Linked DNA regions of Homo sapiens. The protein of the gene in region 1 interacts with the protein of each later gene in a pairwise test. Each region holds a gene or a part of one and is shown on either strand. Other genes may lie near its edges.

Evidence for each region. Proteins that work in one complex are often made in the same cells at the same time.
Region 2: the proteins of FAM9C (region 1) and ABI2 interact in binary tests that used the Homo sapiens proteins (3 or more experiments, as listed by UniProt).

The regions. Positions count from the first base shown.
Region 1 is NC_000023.11:13,041,621-13,048,877, reverse strand, and holds the start of FAM9C (protein FAM9C), read left to right. Parts: upstream 1-4,257; 5' UTR 4,258-4,338; exon of another isoform or gene 4,339-4,435; coding exon of another isoform or gene 4,436-4,679; intron 4,680-5,020; coding exon of another isoform or gene 5,021-5,088; coding exon 5,089-5,149; intron 5,150-5,629; coding exon 5,630-5,750; intron 5,751-5,928; coding exon 5,929-5,960; intron 5,961-7,257.
Region 2 is NC_000002.12:203,331,371-203,338,397, forward strand, and holds part of ABI2 (abl interactor 2), read left to right. Parts: intron 1-7,027. UniProt on the Homo sapiens protein: Regulator of actin cytoskeleton dynamics underlying cell motility and adhesion. Functions as a component of the WAVE complex, which activates actin nucleating machinery Arp2/3 to drive lamellipodia formation.

The sequences.
Region 1 (7,257 bases):
TACTGGTATGTCTTGTTAATGATTAGGCTTGTATGGCACATCAATTCCATTCTGCAAGAGCAGGAAAGATGAACAATGTGTTAGGCTTGAGTTTCTCAAACAAGGGGTTTTGAGAAACATAGGGCATTATTAATTTTATATTAAGGCAACCTATTAAGGATCTGAGGCAACTCCTTGTCTTGGGCTTGTTGTTAAAGGTTCAAACTCTTAATTAAATGCATGACCTTGTATAATGAGTTTAGTTTTCAAATTTAGAATCTCTCTCCTCTCCCAGATTGCTGGGAGGAACATATGGCCATGTATATAATGTGCCTGGCACAAAGGGAACACTCATTGAATGTCAGCTCTTCATTTGCTGGAGCCAATCCAACATGTAACATCAACAGTTGACTCAGATGTACTCTGGGATAAATTGTTGTGCAGTTGTCTGTCTTACTCAGGGCATGGGCACAGAGTGCAAAAAGGAGATTACTCTAGCTAAGAAAGCCCTAGCTAATCAAACAGTTACCATAGACCACGGTGTGTCAATCTCAACACTGTTGGCATTGGGAGCCAGATAATTCTTTGTGGTGGGGCTGTCCTGTGCATTGTAGGATGTTTAGCAGCATCCCTGGCTTCTACCCACAAGATTCCAGTAGCACCCCCATCCCCAGCTATAAAAACCAAAAATACCTCCAGACATTGCCAACTGTCTCCTGGGTGGGGGGTAAATCGCCTCCAGTTGAGAACACCAACTTAGATGATAACCTTCAGTCCTGGAGACCTGGTAGCTTGTCCTGAGAATCAAAGGAAAGAAGGTGAGTGAAAATGAAATTACCTGGTGGCTTGTAAAGTCCAAACCCTGGAATTCTCAGTGCTGCCTGCACTTTTCTATCATCTGGGGAGATTTCACCGTCCTGAGGCCCAGGCCAAACTCCAACACAGTTAATCAGAAACTTAGTGGGTAGGATGGAGGCAGCAGTGTGTTTTGAAATTTCCTGAGTGATTCCAGGAGACGCCAGGGTGGGGCCCCTCTGCTCTAAGCTGAGATGTAATTCTCAGGACTGGGTGGTAGACTTTGCCATTTGATGAGAGGGTCTGAGCCTATGTCTCTACATGTATGCACAGCATTAATTCACGTATAGCAAACACAGCATTTGCTGACGGCCCACCATGTGCCAGCCATGGCGCTGAGTGCTGGAGAAGCAAAGTTGACAAAGACCTGCCCTTGAAGGAATTATAATCTAATTGGAGAGAGTCTTGAAAAGCCCACTGAGAAGGGCCCTGATAGAGTTTGCACAGAGAAGATCATAGGTGAGGGTATTTGTGCAGAGTACATCAGATAAGCCTTTCTGAAAGACATGAATGTTTTCATTCATTCTTAAACAGCTGGAGCCTAGAATTTGCTGCTTCATTCGAGTATAAACTTTTGCTAAGAGTCTAAGAATTGGAGAAAAGGCTGAAATGTGAATGAACATGAAGCCCTCAAACGTCTGGAGGATTATCAGCAGAGAAACTTCCATCTCCTGTGCTACCAGCCCTGTCTGATAAATGAGCAATTTGATTGGCTATTAGAGCGTAAATCACTAATTCAGGCTACAGAGTATGGATGTATACAGTCTTTAACCCAGTGATCACATCTTAGATTTCTAGATGTTTTCAAAATGAACAATTGTTGTTGCCATTTGATGAGAGGGTCTGAGCCTATGTCTCTACATGTATGCACAGCATACATGTTGTTTTCCAACATTTTATTATTAGAAATTTCAAATACACAGAAAAGTTGAAAGAATTTCATGGAAAACATTCATGTTCCCATCACCTAGATTCTATCATTGACATCTGGCCATACTGTTGTTGCTTATCACATATCTAGCCATCTGTTTGTCCCTCTGTCTGTCTATGAATCCAAGCAGTGCATTTCTTTCAGTTAGTTCTTAATGACAGCAATAGAAGAGTGAGGGCTGCTTTGAAAATTGGTGTTATTTCTACATTTGTTATGAAGCATTATCCTTACTTGTCAGTCAATTCACATAGGGTGGAGTAGGGTGTTGGGGGTAGGAGGGGGTTACACCTCCAGTTATTAGAAACCAATTCTCTAAATTAAAGTACTTATTCTAATAACTCTTGAGAAATCTCCTTTAAATTTGCTTAAACATTTCCTGTGGTCTTTGTAGATAACCTCTAGTGGGAAAAAAAAAAAATTGAAGTGACCATGTTTGCCCTAAAGGCTTTGGTTAGTTCACAAAACCTGTTTCCGCAACCCAGAGTTGCTTCAAATAGACTTCCTCCCTTTACAAAGGCTTAATGATTTGTGTATTGAGTTGTTTCTTTCTGGGAGACATCTCACAAATACTCCAGTTGGGAAAAAGAGATAAATTGCTCCATCCAAAGTTTAAAAGAATTTCTTCAGGGTTTTGTAACTTGGACACTTGGTGTTCTGAAAAGAATGTCTTTGTGCCTATTTAAAATTGCAGAATCCTTTTCAGTTTGTTTCTAGGCTGTTATGCCAAAGAAGTAGCTCTGTAATCCCCATTTGTCTTCACCTGACATCAAATTCCACTTTGTGATGGAGAATTGTTCCTTGATTTGACATTCTTTTAAAGAAAAATGAGCCAGCATTGAATTCTTAGCTGAATACCAGTAGTTGGTGTATGTGTGTATGTGTTTCCAATTATAGACAGAACCTGGTATAGTACTTTCAGCTGAAATCTTTGATGAAGCATATGAAAATTACATTGATCCAGATGGGATAGAAAGCTGTAAGACTGGTTGCACAAAGCCCTCTGCAAGATTTGTCTTCTTTCTTAATGTTACACATCTTAAGCTCGAAAGAGAGAGAAACCTGAAGCAATCATGGCTTAAAATTCCCCAAGATGTCTCATTGGCTAATTTGGGTACCAAGTAGATTGTGGGGAAATGGGGACAGCTGGTGGTATTTAGTGTCAGTAATTAGGGATTCTCTTTAGGTTATAGAGAACTCTTAGATATAAAGGTGAGCTGCCTTGTCAGGGAAAGATGGCTTCCAACCCAGCTGTGGAAATAATCGGGCTGGGCACGATGGCTCAAGCCTGTAACCCCAGCACTTTAGGAGGCTGAGGCGGGCGGATCGCTTGAGCCCAGGAGTTGCAGACCAGCCTGGGCAACATAGTGAGACCTCATCTCTGCAAAAAATAAACAAAATTGGCCAGGAGCGGTGGTTCATGCCTGTAATCCTAGCACTTTGGGAGGCTGAGGCGGGCAGACTGACTGAGCTCAGGAGTTCGAGACCAGCCTGGGCAACACGGTGAAACCCTGTCTCTACTAAAATACAAAAAAAAAAAAAAAAAAATCAGCCAGGCGTGGCGGCGTGCGCCTATAGTCCCAGCTACTTGGGAGGCTGAGGCAGGAGAATTGCTTGAACCAGGGAGGCAGAGGTTGCAGGAAGCCGAGATCGTGCCACTGCACTCCAGCCTGGGGACAGAGTAAGACTCTGTCTCTAAAAATAAATAAATAAATAAAATAAAATTAGCTGGGCATGGTGGGACATGCCTGTAGTCCCAGCTACTTGGGAGGCTGTGGTGGGAGGATCCCTTGAGCGCGGGCAGTTGAGGCTACAGTGAGTAGTGATTACACCATTGCAGCCCAGCCTGGGTGACAGAGCAAGACCCTGTCAAAAAAAAAAAAAAAAAGAAAAAAGAAAAATGAAAGAAAAGAAATGACCACATCATGAGAAATCTAGACATAAAGTCTTTAACTTTGTATATCCACTGCAGAATCATGCAATGCCCAGTGTGAGGGAATGGAGTAGGATAGGAGAAAACTACCTGCCCCTGCTGGGAGTCAACAATTTTCTTAGATAAAACATAAAAGCACAATCCATTGATAAAAAGGATGCAGCTGGGCGTGTTGGAAGCACACAGGACATGGGAGGGAGCCTGGGCTCCACCCGCAGGGTGATGGCCATTCCACCCAAAGGGGCAGGAGTGGCTGGAACGAGCCTGGGGGCAAGGTCCTAGGCCCCGTTCACTTGGCCTCCATTCCTTAGGGCAGGGTCCCCTGGCACTCACCACTCCCGAGTCCTTGCTTCCTTCACCAGGATGAGGAGCTGGAATATCGTGGGGACAGAGGCCTCAGAGAGCCACCCAATGAGTCCACAGCAGCCATGGACAGTCCGTGAGGGGGAGGGTGTGCCTGCAGGGGGCGTGGCCCCATGCCGCCCGCCACCTGCATGCGCACTGGGCCGACCAATCAGCGAGGAGCGCGGGCAGCCGGGGCGGCTGCTGCTCTCGTGAGAACAGAGGACCCAGGCCCTCGGAGGAGCTTCGCGGTGCCAGCCTCTGCAGGTCCTCTGAGGGAGCAACATCAGGGCTCCCTCAGGTGAGACGCCCTCGGTGGGGATGCGGGGAAGGCGGGCCAGAGGCCCTTTGGGGAAGAGGGTGTGAAGGGCGGGGCAGCCAGGCTGATCTGTGAGGAAATGGCCCAGGCATTGTCGCCTGGGGCCTGGGTCAGGGCAGGGAGTTGGAGCTGCCTGAGTGGTCCCCAGGACCCAGGAGGGTCCCGGAGGCCTGTGCATGTGTGCAGCGTTTGGGGGGGGGTCGGGGGGTCAACGTGGGTCCGTCTTGTCTGGCTGCCCATCAGGACGGGATACTTGGGGTCACCAGGGGTCCCCTGGGCGTCCAGGCTGGCGAATGGGCAGTCCCTGCCCCTGTCAGAAACAGGTGCGTACCGGCTCATTCCCATGGAGATGGCTGGGGAGATCCTGTGTCACCCCGCGGCCCTCCCGACTCCACTGGGTCGCTGGGGAACCCAGGGGCAGGGCCAGGCTCTGTCCCAAGGGCACTGCAAGAATCCCGCAGAGGCCGCGGAATTCTGCGAGCTCTGCAGCCAGCCCCGGGGAAGCGCTGGACGGGCCAGGACAGGAGGGGATGATGGCATCTTCTCCGCGTCCCCTCCTGCTCCCACGGGAGACCCGGGGCGCCCTTGAACCTGCGATCCTGATGATTTTCATTTAACACGCCTCGTTTCCTTAGTGTCCTTAGTGTGTCTTTGCACTCACCAGGTTCAGAGGTCGCCTCTAGCTTCCCAGGCCAGTCAGCCACGGAGCCCGTGGGCAGGAAGGGCAGCAGGATGGCTGCCAAGGACCAGTTGGAGGTTCAAGTTATGGCCGCCCAGGAAATGGAGCTTGCAGGTAAACACAGCCCAAGGGGACCTAGAAGAAGGTGCACGCCCAACAGTCTGTCTGCTTTCTGGGCGGGGCGCACATGGGCAGCCCGAGGCCCCCGGCCCCTTCGTGGCTTTGGAGCTCACCGTGCATGTGCTGAGATGCCCCAGGTTTTCAAAGCAGGCTCAAGGGCCTTAGGCTTCCCGTGGGAGGCTCCCCCTCATAGCAGGGTTACAGATGCTCTCAGAGCAGCTCTTCTCCATGGATGCGGTCCTGACATCCAAGGGATCTGACCTGTGAACGTTGTTTACTGGGACTTGAACCCGAAGGGCTTCCAAAAATGCCTCCGTAAAATGGTTAGGAGCCGGCGATTCCATGTATAGCTCTGCGGTAAAGCTTTAATTGGCGGAGAGCCAAAAAAGTCTACAAATAGTACGTTTCTCTATGAAAAATGTCCACAACAGCGTCTTCCTCTAAAAAAGGTTTGTCTTTTTTATTTTAATGCAGGAAAGGATCCAGTAAGTCATGAGCATGAGGAAAGAAAACCTGTTACAGAGACAAAGGAGGGAGATGTAACTGATGAGCATGGGGAAAGAGGATCTTTTGCTGAAACAGATGAACACACGGGGTAAAGTGTTTAAGTCCCTTTTGCCTGTCAGATAAGGTCTTTTAGGAAAAGTCAGCTTTGGATCATGTCATCACTGTTATGTTCTATGCAGAACATTTCACACAAGACATTTCTTCCCAACAAACAAGGCCTTTTGTGTAGCATTATGTTAAAATTGTGTTGCAACTTTTTGTTACAGGGTTGATACCAAGGAGCTAGAAGATATTGCAGGTATGTTTTACGAGCTATTTGTGGTTTATGAAAATTGTTTTCAACCATACAACCCTTACAGTAGGTTATATGAATTAGTGGATGACAAGACTGTCTTAAATGCCTTCTTCTCATATATAGCATTTAATGTAATCTGTTTAATAATTTTTCTTACTTACTTTTTTAATTGTTGATGTGGAATGTGAGAATGCTTCTAATAATGGTGAAGCAAGAGGGGTGGCTTTTCTTTCATACACGTGGAAATTTAATTGTTTGGGGGATATTAGAGGACATTGGAGGAGAAACAGCTCTATTCGTTCCTTTCAGTGTACACACATTAAGTCATATATCAGGTTTTTTTTTAGCTTTTACTTTATGTTTGGGGGTACATGTGCAGGTTCGTTATATAGATAAATTGCGTGTCACAGGGGTTTGGTATACAGATTATTTTGTCACCCAGATTATAAGCATCGTACCTGATGGGTGGTTTTCCATCCTCACCTTCCTCCTACCCTCCAACCTCAAGTAGGCCCAGGTGTGTGTTGTTCACCTCTTCCTGTCCGTATGTACTCAGTTTTTAATATGAGTTTTTCATCTTCCTAATTTAGCTATTGTCACAACTTTCTAATTTTGTTTTCTTTAAAGTACCAGAGAAAATTGAATTCTCTAAAATGATGATTTTCTATTATTATTCCAGTAACAAGCTGTGTAGTAGAAAAGGAAAGACAACTTTTCTACCCAGTGAGAAGCATACAATTGGATCCAAAAACTCATAAACTTTATATTGCCATGTGAAATATTAGTTGCACTGTTATGGGACCATATTTTCAAAAAAGTTTGAGAAAATTTCTGTAGAGATTATGAAGACAATACTCTTATTTTTAAAAAGCTTACTTTAGTTTTCAGCTCTTCTATAGCGATAATTCATATAAGCAGTATATTTGGAAAGCTTTGCTCTGCTTGGTGGTGACAAAGTGCCGGTTTTGTCTAATACAATGAGCATTATAGATGGATACTGTATGTAAAAAAATTTGTATTATGGTGCAGCTCTTTTATGATTGCTCAAAACTATTCTCAGCAATTGATGGTAGATCTCTCATGTGAAACCATGTTTAGGAAAGCATTCCTTGCAGTATTACAGTTTTCTGAAACACTGCACTGTGGATAAAAATGTCATATAAAAAGCTCTCAGAAAATATTTCAAATGTGTTTTGAATGTATTTATCTATTTAAACCTAAATGTTTACACCCATGGACATTGCTTCTTTTATTAAAATATAGTTAATAGCATCAACTATTGATTAAAAATACTTTCTTT
Region 2 (7,027 bases), on another chromosome or scaffold:
GAGACAGAGTCTCACTCTGTCGCCCAGGCTAGAGTGTAGTGGCGCGATCTCGATCTCTGCTCACTGCAACCTCCGCCTCCTGGGTTCAAGCGATTCTTCTGCCTCAGCCTTCCAAGTAGCTGGGACTACAGGTGTGTACCACCATGCCTGGCTAATTTTTGTATTTTTAGTAGAGACGGGATTTCCCCATTTTGGCCAGGCTGGTCTGGAACTCCTGGCCTCAGATGATCGACCTGCCTTGGCCTCCCCAAAGTGTTGGGATTACAGGCGTGAGCCACCGCACCTGGCCAATTTAGCCTTATTATAGCATCATGTCTTAGCCACTAGCTCGAGTTAACTAACCCAACACTCATTTTATTGTGTGGAAATGTAATTTTTGCCTATAAAGTAGAAAAAAATCTGTTTATCATGTGTAATAAGTGTTTTTGCTCAGTGTTCTTTTTTTTTTTTTTTTTTTGACACAGAGTTTCACTCTGTCGCCCAGGCTGGAGTGCAGTGGCGCGATCTCAGCTCACTGCAACCTTCGTCCCCCGGGTTCAAGTGATTGTCCTGCCTCAGCCTCCCGAGTAGCTGGGATTACAGGCACGTGCCAACACGCCCAGCTAATTTTTGTATTTTTGGTAGAGATGGGGTTTTGCCATGTTGGCCAGGCTAGTCTCAAACTCCTGACCCCAGATGACCCACCCACCTCGGCCTCCCAAAGTGCTAGGATTACAGGCGTGAGCCACCGTGCCTGGCCCCCTAAGAGTCATTTTTAATAAAAATTTAGATAGTTTCATTATTCTAACCTCTAGAAAATGGGATAGTCAATATTTTTTCTAAAATATGATAAACAGGTATAACTACAGTTTGCTGATATTTATCAGATCAATTTTATTTCTTGCCTATACAAAGGATTTAGTAGTTGGTAGAGACTTTTTTTTGAGATACATGTAAGACCTGCGTTTTTCTTCATTTATTAATATACACACCTAGGCCGGGCACGGTGGCCCACGCCTGTAATCCCAGCACTTTGGGAGGCCGAGGCAGGCACATCACGAGATCAGGAGATCCAGACCATCCTGGCCAACATGGTGAAACCGCGTATCTACTAAAAATACAAAAATTAGCTGGCTATGGTGGCGTGTGCCTGTAGTCCCAGCTACTTGGGAGGCTGAGATGGGAGAATCACTTGAACCTGGGAAGCGGAGGTTGCAGTGAGCCAAGATCATGCCATTGCACTCCAGCCTGGGCGACAGAGCAAGACTCTGTCTCAAAAAAACAAAAATTACACATATAATGCCTAATATGTTTGAAGGTGTCCAGGAATTAAAAATGTTTTGGTTAACTTGGAATCTACGTTTTTACAAATAGAAGAATTTTTATTACAATATAGTTGTCTTAATGTTTTGGTAGATGAAATAACTCCCTATTTGTTACTTCCCTGAAATCTGAAAAGCCAACTTGTTGATATGTACGTTTTTCTTTTTGTTAGATAAAAGTTACTGATTTTTGTGAGTGACAGTTCACATAGATGCATAGTAAAATCTTATTGTTTGGATTAAGAGTAGAATCATCCCATAATATGGATTTATTCAAAAGAGAAGAAATTAAGAACTTACCTTAAATTTTTACCTGAAATATTTTTGAACAATAGGAGACATATTAGTAGCTTTCCTTTTCTTCTCTTAATCAATGTGGATACTCCCAGAGTTCACTAAAAACTTCATGAGAGGTTTACAAGGGAATATTATCAGTCAGTTTCATCAAAAGTAATTACCAAAATGATACAAAGATTTAAAATTTTTATTTAATAAAAATCATTAGAATACATGCTCATTGTTGAAAAATTATTGGAGAATACAAGTAGGTATTATGAAAGAAATGGAAAATTGCCCGATCATCTTGAATATATATCTGGTACTCATACTTTTAAATATTTTTTGTATGCACAACTATATATCAATATTTTTGTAGAAATGGGTTTATGTTCTATATTCTGTACCTTTAAAAGAACCTTTTAAGGATGCTGGGCTTGACTTTTTTTTAAATGGATGTCATATACTATATTGGGAGGAGGTTGGTTATATTTATAGGTCGAGTTCTGTATGTTCTTGCAAATGGGAGAATCTTAGAATACCTAGAATGAAGGAGAAAGAGGTCAGTTGAGAGTAAGGAGACTGAGTAGAATTTGGGAGACTGAATTCCCCATAGATTAAGATGACTCAACTCATTTGAAATTGATCAAGGCTTACCATTCCTCAAGAAATTAGTCCCTAACTCTCAGCAGAGACATTTGGTGAATAGATTTTCAGTGACAAATCAGTCATCTTCAAGACCTTTGACAAGATTGCAAAAACAGGCTAATTTATATTTGAGCCCCTTGCTCTTTTAAACATTTTGTCATTTGTACACTTCCTACACCTTCTTGTCCAAGGAACTTAAGTGACCTCATAATTTCCGTTATTGATCCAGGAAATCCAGTCTCACCTCATTTCACCCTTCCTTGAAGAGCTTCCTGGTTCAAAATTGCTCTTTACCAAAATAATTAATTAATAAACTGTTCATTTATTTTTTCTTTTCTTTTTTCTTTCTTTTTTTTTTTTTTTGAGATGGAGTCTCACTCCTTTGCCCAGGTTAGAGTGCAGTGGCGTGATCTTCGCTCACTACAACCTCCGGCTCCTGGGTTCAAGCAATTCTCCTGCTTCAGCCTCCTGAGTAGTTGGGACTACAGGCATGTGTCAGCATACCCAGCTAATTTTTGTATTTTTAGTAAAGACAGGGTTTCTCCATGTTGGCCAGGCTGGTCTCGAATTCCTGACCTCAAGTGATCCACCCGCCTTGGCCTTCCACAGTGCTGGGATTACAGGTGTGAGCCATCGTGCCCAGCCTCATTTACTTTTTCTTCTTACCTTGGTATGGGTAATGTGAGAATGTATGATAGGTTTACTTTATTTAGAGTCATCTTTTCTCACCCAGAGAATAATATATAAACCAAATTGGTTTACTTATGTGTAAAATATGTAGTAGAGATATTTTTGAGCATGAGGTGCTTTTGGTGTTACTTTTTCTTTTAAAATGCAGGGAATTTAATAGTATGCAGTTTCAGGGTGTGTAAGGTAATCTTTTGGTGGATGAAATATATTTGGTGGATGAATATGCTGTGATTTGCTTACACCCACCCCAAATCCATTTTGCAGCACCCTACTCACTGTCCAGAGATTCTGGGAAAAAAACAATAGAGAAGACAAAGCCAGTCTAGACACCATTTGACTCTACCTTGTGAATATTCTGAAAGTTACATTAGGCTAGTTGTAGATTTTTTTTTTTTTTGAGACAGAGTCTCTGTCGCCCAGGCTGGAGTACAGTGGTGCGATCTCAGCTTACTGCAACCTCTGCCTCCTGGGTTCAAGCAATTCTCCTGTCTCAGCTTCCTGAGTAGCTGGGATTACAGGTGCACGCCACCACGCCTGGCTAATTTTTGTATTTTTAGTAGAGACGGGGTTTCACCGTATTGGCCAGGCTGGTCTCGAGATCCTGACCTTAGGTGATCCGCCCGCCTCGGCCTCCCAAAGTGCTGGGATTACAGCGTAAGCCACCGTGCCTGGCCTAGTTGTAGACTTTTGATAGCTTATGGTTGAATTTTTATGGGATTGGTTAATAGATTGGATTCATGAGGTAGCATGTAGGGCAACACATTCTATTTTGGATTTTTCATTTACTTTGTGTTTCCTTCCAGATACGAAGCTCCTAGAAGATGGAGTCATTTCTTAAAAATTTCTATATTTTCCCATTAGCCGTAGGATGTTCTCCATATACTAGCCACTCATTAAATAGTTGCTGAATGTAAGAAATACAGACTTGAATATGCAAGAGCCTATGCACTGAATTATTTTTATTTTATTACTTTATTTTATTTTATTTTTTGAGACAGGGTCTCACTCTGTCACTCAGGCTGGAGTGTAGTAGCACGATTATGGGTCACTGCAGCTTGCACTCCCAAGCTCAAACAGTCTTCACACTTCAGCTCCCAAAGTAGCTGGGACTACAGGCTTGTGCCACCATGCCCAGCTAATTTTTTTTGTTGTTGTTGTTAGAAATGGGATCTCACTATGTTGCTCCGGCTGGTCTTGGAACACCTGGGCTCAAGCAATTCTCCTGCCTTGGCTTCCCAAAGTGCTGGGATTACACCTGTCAGCCGCCATGCCTGGCCTTGAATTATTTTATAAGTAGGATATAATTACATGTAAATTTACCTTGCAAGTTTTTTCCTATTTGATTTTTTGGTGACATTTATGTTCTGTAAAGTTTTGCAGTACTTTTCATATTTGCATAATTCATGCAAGGAACATAGTTTTGCTTTTTTCTTCTTAAGTAATATACTTTGTAGAAAATTTGGATGAGGTAACAGCTTTGTTTTGAATCATTTACAACATGAATTTTTTCTCATTTGATTTTTAAAGTCAGGTTTATTGAGTTTTAATACATATATGGTACAAGTCACCCTTTTTAGGTGTAAAGGTTTATGAATTACAATAAACTTACATAGTCATGTAACCACCACAATGTAAAATTTTCCTTGTACCCTCTGTAGTCAGTCCTGTCCCTCCACTACTAGCCTTTGGTAAACACTGATATATTTTCTGTCCCTCTAGTTTTTGCCTTTTCCAGAATGCCATATAAGGGGCATTATGTAGTATATAGCCTTTTGTGTTTGACTTCTTGGTACTAGAAGTCCTAATACATTTGAAAATCATCAGTGTTATTGTGTTTTGTCAGTACTTTGTTCCTTCTTATTACTGAGTAATATTCTAGAGTATGAAAGAATCATAATTTGTTCATCCATTCACCAACTGATGGATTTCTGGATTGTTTCTAGTTTTAGGCAGTGGTGAATATGGCTGTAAACATTTGTATACAGGTGTTGGTGCAACCTAAGTCTTCACTCTTTTGGGTAAATTTAAGGGAAAAGATCAACTGTTGTACCCTGGTAACAGTGGATGTATCCACATAGGCTGCATAGGCCAGTGCTTGAACTGCATCTGATCTGAATCTTGGCCGAGCACTTTGTGATCCTCTTGGAATATAAGATTATGGAAGTTTGCGAGGACCTTATGTGAAGCCCTTTCTCAATCTCTTCATCTGCCGAGGAGGCTGTACGTGATAACAGTGCCTCATCACCTCCTAGTTCCCATGAGATGAGGCTCTCTATTGTACCCTTTTAGGTAGTAGCTGCAGGCTGTAAGACTTTAGTTGCAGCATGGCATTGGCTCCTCCGCAACAGAGTGTCATATCTATGTTGTAGTCACCTGGCTCCTTTTGTTTTAGTATTGCTTTACACAAGGGCTGTATCTTTTACTACTATTCCTTCTGCCCTCCATGTAAATGGTAGGCTTTCTGAACCTAACAAGCAGTTGGGCAGGTCTATCACATTGCCTTCTCTTTGCCTTGACAATAAATATCTAATAGTGGGATTATTACCGTATGGTAAATGTGTGTTTAGTTTTATACAAATTGCCAAACTCTTTTCCAAAAACGATGGTACCGTTTTGCGTTCCCACCAGCAAAGATCCAGTTGTTCTTCATCTTTGTCAGCATTTGGTTTTGTCAGGTTTTAAAATTTTAGCTATTCTCTTGTTAGTGATGTCTCAAAGGCCATATATGACAAGCCTACAACTAACATCATACTCAACCATGAAAAGTTGAAACCTTTTCCTCTAAGATCAGGAATAAGACAGTGGTGCCCAGTGTCACTAGTTCTATTTAATCAAGTACTGCAAAGTACTAGAAGTCCTAGCCAGCCAGTTAGGAAAGAAAAATAAACAAAAGGCATCAAAATTGGAAGAAGTTAAATTGTCTCTGTTTGCAAATGACATGATTCCTTATGTATACAAAACCCTAAAGACTCCACCAAAAGACTGTTAGAATTAATTAACGAATTTAGTAAAGTTGTAGGAGACAAGATCAACATACAAAAATCTGTTGTGTTTCTACATATTAACTACAAACGATCTGAAAAATTAAGAAAACATTTCCATTTATAACAGCAGAAAGAATAGAATACTTAGGAATAAATGTAATCAAGGAGGTGAAAGGTCTGTACACTAAAAACTATAAGACATTTATGAAAGTAATTGAAGAACATGCAAATAAATGGGAAGATATCCCGTGCTCATGAATTGGTAGATTTGATATTGTTAACATGTCCATACTACACAAAGCCATCTACAGATTTAATGCAATCTCTATCAATATTCCAATGGTATTTTTCACAAAAATAGAAAAACCCTAAAATTCATAGGAAACCACAAAATACTTTGAATAGCCAAAGCAGTTTTGAATAAGAACAAAGTTGGAGGTATCATACTTCCTGATTTCAAACTATATTACAAAGCTATAGGCCTGGCATGGTGGTTCATGCTTGTTATCCCAGCAGTTTGGGAGGCCTAGGTAGCCAGATCACCTGAGGTCAGGAGTTCAAGACCAGCCTGGCCAGCGTGGAGAAACCTCATCTCTACTAAAAATACAAAAATTATAGGGCATGCTGGCACACGCCTGTAGTCCCAGCTACTCAGGAGGCTGAGTTGGGAGAATCGCTTGAACCCAGGAAGTGGAGGTTGCAGTGAGCTGAGATCATGCCACTGCACTCCATCCTGGGCAACAGAGCGAGACTCTGTCTCAAAAAAAGCTATAGTAATCAAAACAGTGTGTTACTGGCATAAAAGACATGTAGACTAATGGAACAGAATGGAGCCCGGAAATGTAGCCACATCTGTGCAGTCAACTAAGCTTTGATAAAGGCACCAGGTACACAATGGGGAAAGGATAATTCAGTAAATGGTATTGGGAAAACTATATCCACATGCAAAAGAATGAAATTTGATTGTTATATCACACATACAAATTAGCTAGAAATGGATTAAAGACTTAAATGTAAGATCTGAAATTATAAAACTCTTTGGTATGGGTCAGATGTTTGTTCCCTTCAAATCTCTTGTTGAAATGTGATTCCCAGTGTTGGAGGTGGGTCTTGGTGGGAGATAATTGG